Homo sapiens: one gene and its partner. The protein of the gene in region 1 purifies or fractionates together with the protein of each later gene. This does not show direct contact. Each region holds a gene or a part of one and is shown on either strand. Other genes may lie near its edges.

The links. Proteins that work in one complex are often made in the same cells at the same time.
Region 2: the proteins of TIA1 (region 1) and PITPNB fractionate together in Homo sapiens (co-fractionation; one large-scale study listed by BioGRID). This does not show direct contact.

The regions. Positions count from the first base shown.
Region 1 is NC_000002.12:70,209,754-70,214,747, reverse strand, and holds part of TIA1 (cytotoxic granule associated RNA binding protein TIA1), read left to right. Parts: intron 1-253; coding exon 254-399; intron 400-1,902; coding exon 1,903-2,029; 3' UTR 2,030-4,994. UniProt on the Homo sapiens protein: RNA-binding protein involved in the regulation of alternative pre-RNA splicing and mRNA translation by binding to uridine-rich (U-rich) RNA sequences.
Region 2 is NC_000022.11:27,853,257-27,856,756, forward strand, and holds part of PITPNB (phosphatidylinositol transfer protein beta isoform), read right to left. Parts: intron 1,684-3,500; coding exon 1,636-1,683; 3' UTR 1,598-1,635; intron 408-1,597; coding exon of another isoform or gene 357-407; 3' UTR 1-356. UniProt on the Homo sapiens protein: Catalyzes the transfer of phosphatidylinositol and phosphatidylcholine between membranes. Also catalyzes the transfer of sphingomyelin.

The DNA.
Region 1 (4,994 bases):
TCAACTGATGCCTTCCAAAAACTATGCCATTCAGAGTATCACGTAGAGTTACAGCAGTATAACCTCACTTGTTTTGTTGTTGTTTTTTGTTTTTTTTTTTTTTTTTTTTTTTTTTAGCAGTCAACTCTTGTTTATCCTGTCATTTTAATTGTAATGATGGCCCTGTGTGTTTTGGCTAAGAATTTGTGGTATCAGCATATTAGGATTGTATATATATAGTTAACTTCAAGTAATACTAAATTTTATTTAATAGCAGAATCAAATTGGATATCCCCAACCTTATGGCCAGTGGGGCCAGTGGTATGGAAATGCACAACAAATTGGCCAGTATATGCCTAATGGTTGGCAAGTTCCTGCATATGGAATGTATGGCCAGGCATGGAACCAGCAAGGATTTAAGTAAGCATATCTTATGTCTTCCTTTACTAACCTTTGAAAATGTCTAAAGAAATTTTAAGTAGGAAGAAATTTTAAGAATTAGTGGGTAATAGGGCCTCTTATGTAAAGCGTAACTATAGCCTTGAAAGAACTTAAAATTGTTTTTTAGTAAGAAAATAAGAGCTTAATAGTTGTTAAGCTTTTCACATGACTAATGGTCACTTAGCCATTCTTATATACACTGAGTTTGATGCTAGTTGTTGTATTCATTATGCTTTTTTCTGTACAAAGGGTTTTTTCAATATGCCTTGTTACATTGCAAGCTTCCTTATACACCCTGAATTACACTATTTTACTTACATTTCTGAAAAACACACTGGAAATAAAAATACTTGAGAGGTTAAAAAGGAATTTAGTGGGCTGGGCGTGGTAGTTCCTGCCTGTAATCCCAGCATTTTGGGAGGCTGAAGTGGGTGGATCACTTGAGGCCAGGAGTTTGCGACCAGCCTGGCCAACATGGCGAAACCCCACCTCTGCTAAAAATACAAAAATTAGCCAGGTGTAGTGGTGCACACCAGTAGTTCCAGCTATTTGGGAGGCCGAGGCAGGAGAATCACTTGAACCTGGGAGGCGGAGGTTGCAGTGAGCTGAGACTACACCACTGCACTCCAGCCTGGGCAGCAGAGCAAGACTCTGTCTCAAAAAAAAAAAAGGATTTTGTGGTTGGGCATGGTGGCTCATGCCTATAATCCTAGCACTTTGGAAGGCCAAGGCAGGCGGATCACTTGAGTCCAGGAGTTTAAGATCAGCCTGGGCAACATGGCGAAATCTCATCTCTACAAAAGGTACAAAAAAAATTAGCCAGGCATGGTGGTTGCGTGCCTATAATCCCAGATGTTCGGGAGACTGAGGTAGGAGAATCGCTTGAGCCTGGGGAGACGTAGGTTGCAGTGAGCTGAGATCATACCACTGTACTCCAGCCTGGGTGACACAATGAAAACCTGTCTTAAAAAAAAAAAAAAAAGAAAAGAAAAGAAAATCTTGTAATGTTATGAATTTTTATGAGCTTTCATATGCTAATAATTGTTTTGATTTCTTCTTTGAGTAGTATAATGTTCCTTTTTCGTTGTAGGGAACCTACCTGACTCTTTCAGGTAGTGGTTTCCTCAGCAAATATGTTCAACCAAGGCATAGAGATGAGATGGATAGCTTTCTTTTCCAAGAATGGGGTTAGGTTTTTCTATATTCAAAGGAGATGAATGTTGATAAGTTCAGGGTATTTTCTTAGCTTTAATTTCTAACAAAATTAAACTGTCCAAATTAAACATACAGGGATGCTTGTTTTTAAGAGAAAAAAACTTTAGTAAAAGATTTCATTTTCCCTAGCATAAATTATTCTATTTGGGATTAAGAAAAAGTATGTTTCCCATTTCCCATATTTGTTCTTGTTGTTTGTTCTTGCCAATACTTTATTTTAATCAGTGGATTTCCTCTCCCCTCTGCTTCTTTCACATTCTCCACCAGTCAGACACAGTCTTCTGCACCATGGATGGGACCAAATTATGGAGTGCAACCGCCTCAAGGGCAAAATGGCAGCATGTTGCCCAATCAGCCTTCTGGGTATCGAGTGGCAGGGTATGAAACCCAGTGAATAAGGACTCCAGAATCTAAAGCCAGTGGCTTGAGGCTACAGGGAGTGTAGTAAAGCCGTTGTTTACTTAAAGATTTATCAAATCAGTCAGTGCAAATGTCAGATACAATGTATTTATTTAAAAGATTCATTTTTAATCATGAAATTACTTATCATCCACATTGTTTTAAAAAGAAACAAGATGCTGGATGTCTGCCAATTTTTGCCTTCATTACCTTTTTTGATAAAGTTTCTCAGATCCTTGTTTCAAACACAAATGCAGGGATTGCTGCCACTTTTTAACTATTAAGAGGCAGAAAATTGCACAATATTGAACTTTTTTCCACTGAAGTAGTGTGCAGTTCTAGTTTGCATTCCTGATATGATTTAAAACATGTAATATAAAGATGTTAAAAAAAAAAACCAAAACTGTGCAGAGTCTAGAAGTTGTTTGTCATCTTCAGCTTGTGCACAATTCTGTTTTAGGTTAAAAAAAGGCATTGTTTGAGCTGTCCCATCTCCACTGTTATCCCTTTGGGGTTTTTTAATATAAATTATTAGTTTACATCATTTTTGTATCTACATCTTTTTTCACAAATTTGTCTTGCCTTATTAAAGTTCTGTAAAATATACTTAAATGGAAAAAATGATGTTCATTTAGATTGAAAACTTTTCTCAGATGGATTGATAATTGCATTCATCTTGTGTTTTATATGAGAAGGTGCCTCAAGAATTTCCTGTTGGATTTGTTTAAAAGGATTTTTATCTTTCGTGATAAACTTTGCTGTGTACCAGGAACTATAAAAACAAAAACTTGTTACTAAAGAAAATATCTGAAATGTGATAAGTTCTTATGCCATGTTAATTTCATGTGTCAACTTCAACATTTACATGTATTATTTCATTATGTAAAATGTTTTAGCAATTTAATATTTTGCACAGTTAGCAAACTTTGTATGTCATTTCCTTCAAGGCATCATGCAGAGTTGACATGAGATTTATAAGGTTTTAAGTTGTTTGCATGTGAAAATCAAATACATACTTTGGTAGTCTTTGAATACAAAGTCATCTGCTCTTGTTTTTCAAGAATTTTGAGACACAAAGTTGTATGTAAAGGAATATATTAATTTGCCGTTTTCTAGGTAGATTTGCTCAAAAAGAGTGAATCAACTTAATATGTACAAATGATAGCTGTGAAACTGTAGAATATCTTTGTGTCAGGCTTGGAGTTCATTGTGACCTCCAAATTTTGCCTGAAGGACCAGCTGGGCAAAGCATCTTTTAAATGTTCAGAGGCCAAAAGATAAACAAAAAAAAAACCTTAAAATCCTACCTCTTTAAACAGCCTTCAGATAAGAGAATCCTCAGTGCAATCATTATTTTGATTCGTTTGGTACCTGTTTTCCTGGAGTTCCCGATTTTATTATTTTGGGGTGGCTCCAAGCATTAAGAGGTTTAATCTTTGATGGCATTGTTCTAGTTTTGAAATTTCTAGTATATTTCAGAGTCTCTTAGAAGACTTGTGTGGGAAGTTTCACTTTGTTTTCAGTGAAGATCACAAACCTCCTTCTTCCTTTACTCAAGAGGAAAGGTCCCAGTATACATATTTGAATGGTTGATGGTTTTCAAGACCTTCAGGGAGCTCCCTGCATTTTACCTAGAAACAGAAAAGGCCCGCAAAATCTTAAGTTTCCTGGCCTGCATTTCCCGGGTAGGGGCAAATGACTCCAAGCTGGTCTCTAAGCCAATACCCTTATAAACCAGAGCCCAGGAAAGACAGCTCGAGTGTATAATTCTCTGGAGCTCAATTCTATGCAGTTGTGCTGATATTTCATTAAGTCACTGTGTATTTTTAAGTGTTGATACATTAAAAGTCGCTTTATGGAAGATGAGTAAATTTTTTAAATACTTGGAAATTTTATTTCCTTGTTAACTTCTACAGATCAGGGCATGCAACCAAAAGCAGCTTAAATGAAATATTTTAAAATAAAATATCAGGAAGCTATTTTTAGATTTCTTCTGGCTTATGTTTCTACTTTAGGACCCTCATTGTTCTCTTATTAAAAAAAATTATTTCCTGTGCATCTCATGGACTGCAGGGTAAATTATTTGGGCATAAATAATTTAAATAGTTTTCTTTCATTTTGACTATCTCCAGTAATAACAGTTTTTATTATCCAGCATATTGGCTTATTGCACAAATCTTAAAATGTACATTGACTACTTTCTGAGAAGAAAGTGGTATCAGTACTCATGATGAAAAGGTTACTACTGAACAAATTCACATTTCAGGAACACCTCTATCTTTGGTTTAAATCTTACTCTTAGTTTTTCCGTCTAAAAATCATACTGGTATTAGTATCAGGTAAGGAAATTAAAGTTTTTAAAATGGTTTCATTCTCTGCAATATGCAAAATTTAGATTTTACTTTCTGGTACTGTAAAGAACCTGAAGTGATTTACACTTAATGGGTGATTAATCCAGTATTCTTTACCCTGAATGTTTGGATATTAAAGTTCCTTTATGTTTTCTATAACCTGTGGGATCTTCTTGCAGTGATTATTGTGTGTGAGATTTTTTTTCTTTTTGGTCTATCCATATTGTTATATTCACTCAGGTATTTTTTTTTTAATCTTATTCCAGAATCAGTGGTTTATATTGGGTTACTGTTTAACACCAAATGGAATTGGCATTCTGCAGATTTAATTAATTATGAAACCAGGGTCTCATTTTCCTTGCTGATACTTGTTGAAAATGAGATTCACATTCTAGTCTTTATTTTCCTCCTGTTTTGTCCCTGTGCTTGTACATCTTCCTTTTATTTGTGTGTTATAGTTCTATTCCATTTGAGAAGGCAGTTGGTAAGAACTAGATTGCATGTACAAAGACAGGTTTACTAAGTGCTGTACAGTGGTCCTGAGGTTACAGTTGAATTAGAAAAACGAAATGTACTTACAGGAAATAAGAAAGCAAACCTTTCAAATGA
Region 2 (3,500 bases), on another chromosome or scaffold:
AACATACCAGCTAGTATTACATTGCAGTCAATTTGTCCATTAATGGTATTACTCTGATAATTATTAAAATCTGTTCCAGGTATATATATTGAAAATATTTTCTTTTGCATTCTTGCTGAAGATAGGTACAGTACTTTGGAGAAATTGTACTAATCCCTTCAGTATGTCTGTATGTACATATATACACAAGTGTGTGTATCTGGATCTGTAGCTCTACATGCGCTTTATATACAGCTACAGACATATGCACACATACATATATACACACGTGGTTGAGAACCTGTGCATGTGTGTGTATCATCACAAGCACACATCTGGGAAACGTCAACACTGCAAGATACTGGTCAGATTCTTCTTCACTCATCACTGGCTGCGCTTGTTCCCCTCACTTGACCTTGATTACGTAACTGTAAGAAAAGTGAAAGACAGTGCAAAATGTGTTAAAATACAGAGACAGGAAATGTTAGCAGCTCGTCACACACACTCTCCAAATGCATCAAAACTTTTGGCAGAAAATGTACCCCAACTACTGCATCTTACAATTTTCATCTGTTCAAAAAGATTTTGGTCTTACTACTAATGCCACAATATATTGTCTCATCAGAGGGGAAAATAAAGTCGAGGCAGAAATAAATCACAAAAACTTAGGAGAGTTTAACAAAAGTAACAATAACTTAAATTTTTTTTTTTTTAATGAACATGGAATTTAAAAGTGTTTGGGGGGAATCTTGGAAGAGTTACTTCATTCTTATTTGGCACAACTAGCTTTTCTCACAACTGAACATTTCATTCATCCCAATGTTCAAAAATTAAAGAGCAGGTAGCTCATGTGGGGCAGCAAAGAACCACAGTGGAGGGAGGGGAGTGCTACATCTCGTTCTCTTTATAATAAACATTATAGTTCAGTATAAACAAATGATGACAGCACACTGTTGATTTTTGTTTACTCACACTGGTTTCAATTTGTGAGGGAGATTTTGATTTTTTTTTTTTTGCATCTCTGGGAAAATTTGTTATATGGGCATATAATGTGTTAGAGAAATAAGACCACAAAAATGGTTCACACCATAAATTAAAACTAAAGTGCATTTACGCAGAGTAAAGCTAACTGTAACAACTGAAGACGAAATATCAAGGAAGACTTTCTGGTGCACAGAAAATATTGCAGCCAAAATAAATTATTGAGGTTGGCTCGTATGGTATGGGATAGAGGATCTTTATTTGATCTCAAGTGATTTTGCATATTTCCTTACTAACCACAAATGGTTCTACAAAGAACCAGGTCAATTAACTCAGTATTGAAAAATCAGCTGGCTTCCAGGACAATGTGCTACATGATGAGTAACAGCACCTGGCAGCTGGGTTCTAACCCATAACACTAAAAACTAACCCAGGATTACTAAATTCAACCTGGTCCACAGGTAAAATTTTTAAAGACTATTAATAAGTGTTCACTATTAATTTCTAAAATATTTATCTTTTAAATTCTAAAAATAAAACCACATTTAACACTTAGAGCTTCTGCTCAGCAAGTTAACTGCCCATCACCAAAAAGGTACAGGTTTCGAAACATCTTTTTACCCAGGTCTTCACTTACACAGTTTGACATTGTCTCTGACCCTACAGGGGACTCATCTAGACATCAGCAGCCGACGTGCCTCGAACGGAACCCCTCTTACGCATCTAAACGTAAAATAAAATTGTGAGCTGCTGAAATCAGACTCTAAATAGGGGTTAGTAAGCAAGGGGAGAAAAAAGATCTAGAAGAGATTATGAAGTGATGTTCATAACCATATCCACATTAAGAATGAAGTTCTGTGGCCCCTCAAATAACCTTGGTTTGAAGACATTCTTGCAAAAGGCTTTTCTTAGCACAAAAAAGGTTTATCTATCCTTAACTGTAAAAAACAAAAGCCTGCAGACTGATAAAAAATTATCAAAAACAGCCAATGGGTAAACAAATTGTTTGCCAATATAATGTGAGAAAATACCCCAAGGGTCTGGTCCATATTTGCATAGTCCCTAGGCCAGACAAGCAAGCCATGAGGGTGTGGGCCACACCTCTTTGCTGCTTCTGAGAACAGGGTCTCTCAGTGGAGTCCTTTAAAGGAAGTTTACTGAAAGGAGGGAGAATGAAAGGGAGAAAAGGCAAGGAGGGAGAATGAAAGGGAGAAAAGGCAAGCACAGAAACAATGTATGGCAAACCATGAAGGGCACACAGATGTATTAGAAAGGACAGGCATTCATAACAATAGCCTCCAGACAAGTGACACCACTCAATGAGAAAACAAAAAACGAAATGAACAGAAAACAAACAAATGCAATAAATACGTTAAAACTCAACACATCCTCACCCCCACCCCGGAACCGGAGGTGCCAGTTAAGAACAAACAGGTAAAATGTTTACCTAAAGTCCTCCTTCAGCTGCTGAGCCTCAACTCCAGGGCAGTTCCCTGCAGATCATAGGCAGGGGCATTCCTCGTGTGCCTAACCTCTCAAGATGCTAGTTCTCTCCAGGGCCAAAACCCATTTGAAAGAAATCCAATTCTTAAAATATTTGTGAATTAAGAGCATTATAATGTCATTAAAATCTATCATCAGGTGTCAGGGGTCAGGACCTCAAGGAAAAAGAAATTTCTGCGTGTGAAGAGGACTCTAAAATGGGATGCCTCTTCAGGAGGCAGGTGCTTTCTGGGTAGGCATTCTTGGCCTGCAGGCTTGATGCTGCCCAGATTCTGAGGATGCTTTCACAAAGCCACCATTAGGACTCAAAGCAGCAGCATCTTGATTCTGTGTGTGGAACCAAGCACTCCCCAATGACCTACAGCAAAATAACTTAAATGGGATTCAACGTTAAGATGCACCACTTAATGGTGAAATTTGTCTTAAAATGTTTTTGAGATATTTGACAAAGCAACTGCTATGTACCCTCACTCTGAACCAATGATAGATTTTCCACCAGCTTTATGAGGGGGTTAATCAGTTTCAGCAATGTGGGTATAAGAATGGTGACACTAAGGAATTGGGCTTTTACTTGTCTATCTTACACCTTCTTCTCGAGTGCAATTCCCAACTCACAAATAACTGATCTGCATGGAGCAGCAGCTGCACCTGCAGGCCCACTGCCATAGGTGAGAGCAAGAGTCACCAGCTCCACAGCGGAGGGTCACAGCGTGTTGAGGCTGGGACCATTCTGTGTTCAGGTATCGTGAGGCTGAGGACTTGTTAGAGAAGCAAGAGCACTTCCCTGGGGGAAGAAATCTCAGTCAAGTTCTGTCCAAGGGGTCCAGAGATAGGTAGGGTTTAGAGTCCAAACCAGATAGGGCTTATCACCTGGTCAATGGTAACTACTCTTCCCCATGTGACACACAGTTCTTCAGCATAAAAATTAAAAACTGAGAGAAGGGCTCTTTCCCAAGGGTTTGAGCTGTTGGTAAATCCTTGTAGGAAATGCCAGTGCTGCATCATGGGCTTAGCGTGTTTGGGTGTCTCTTGCTGCT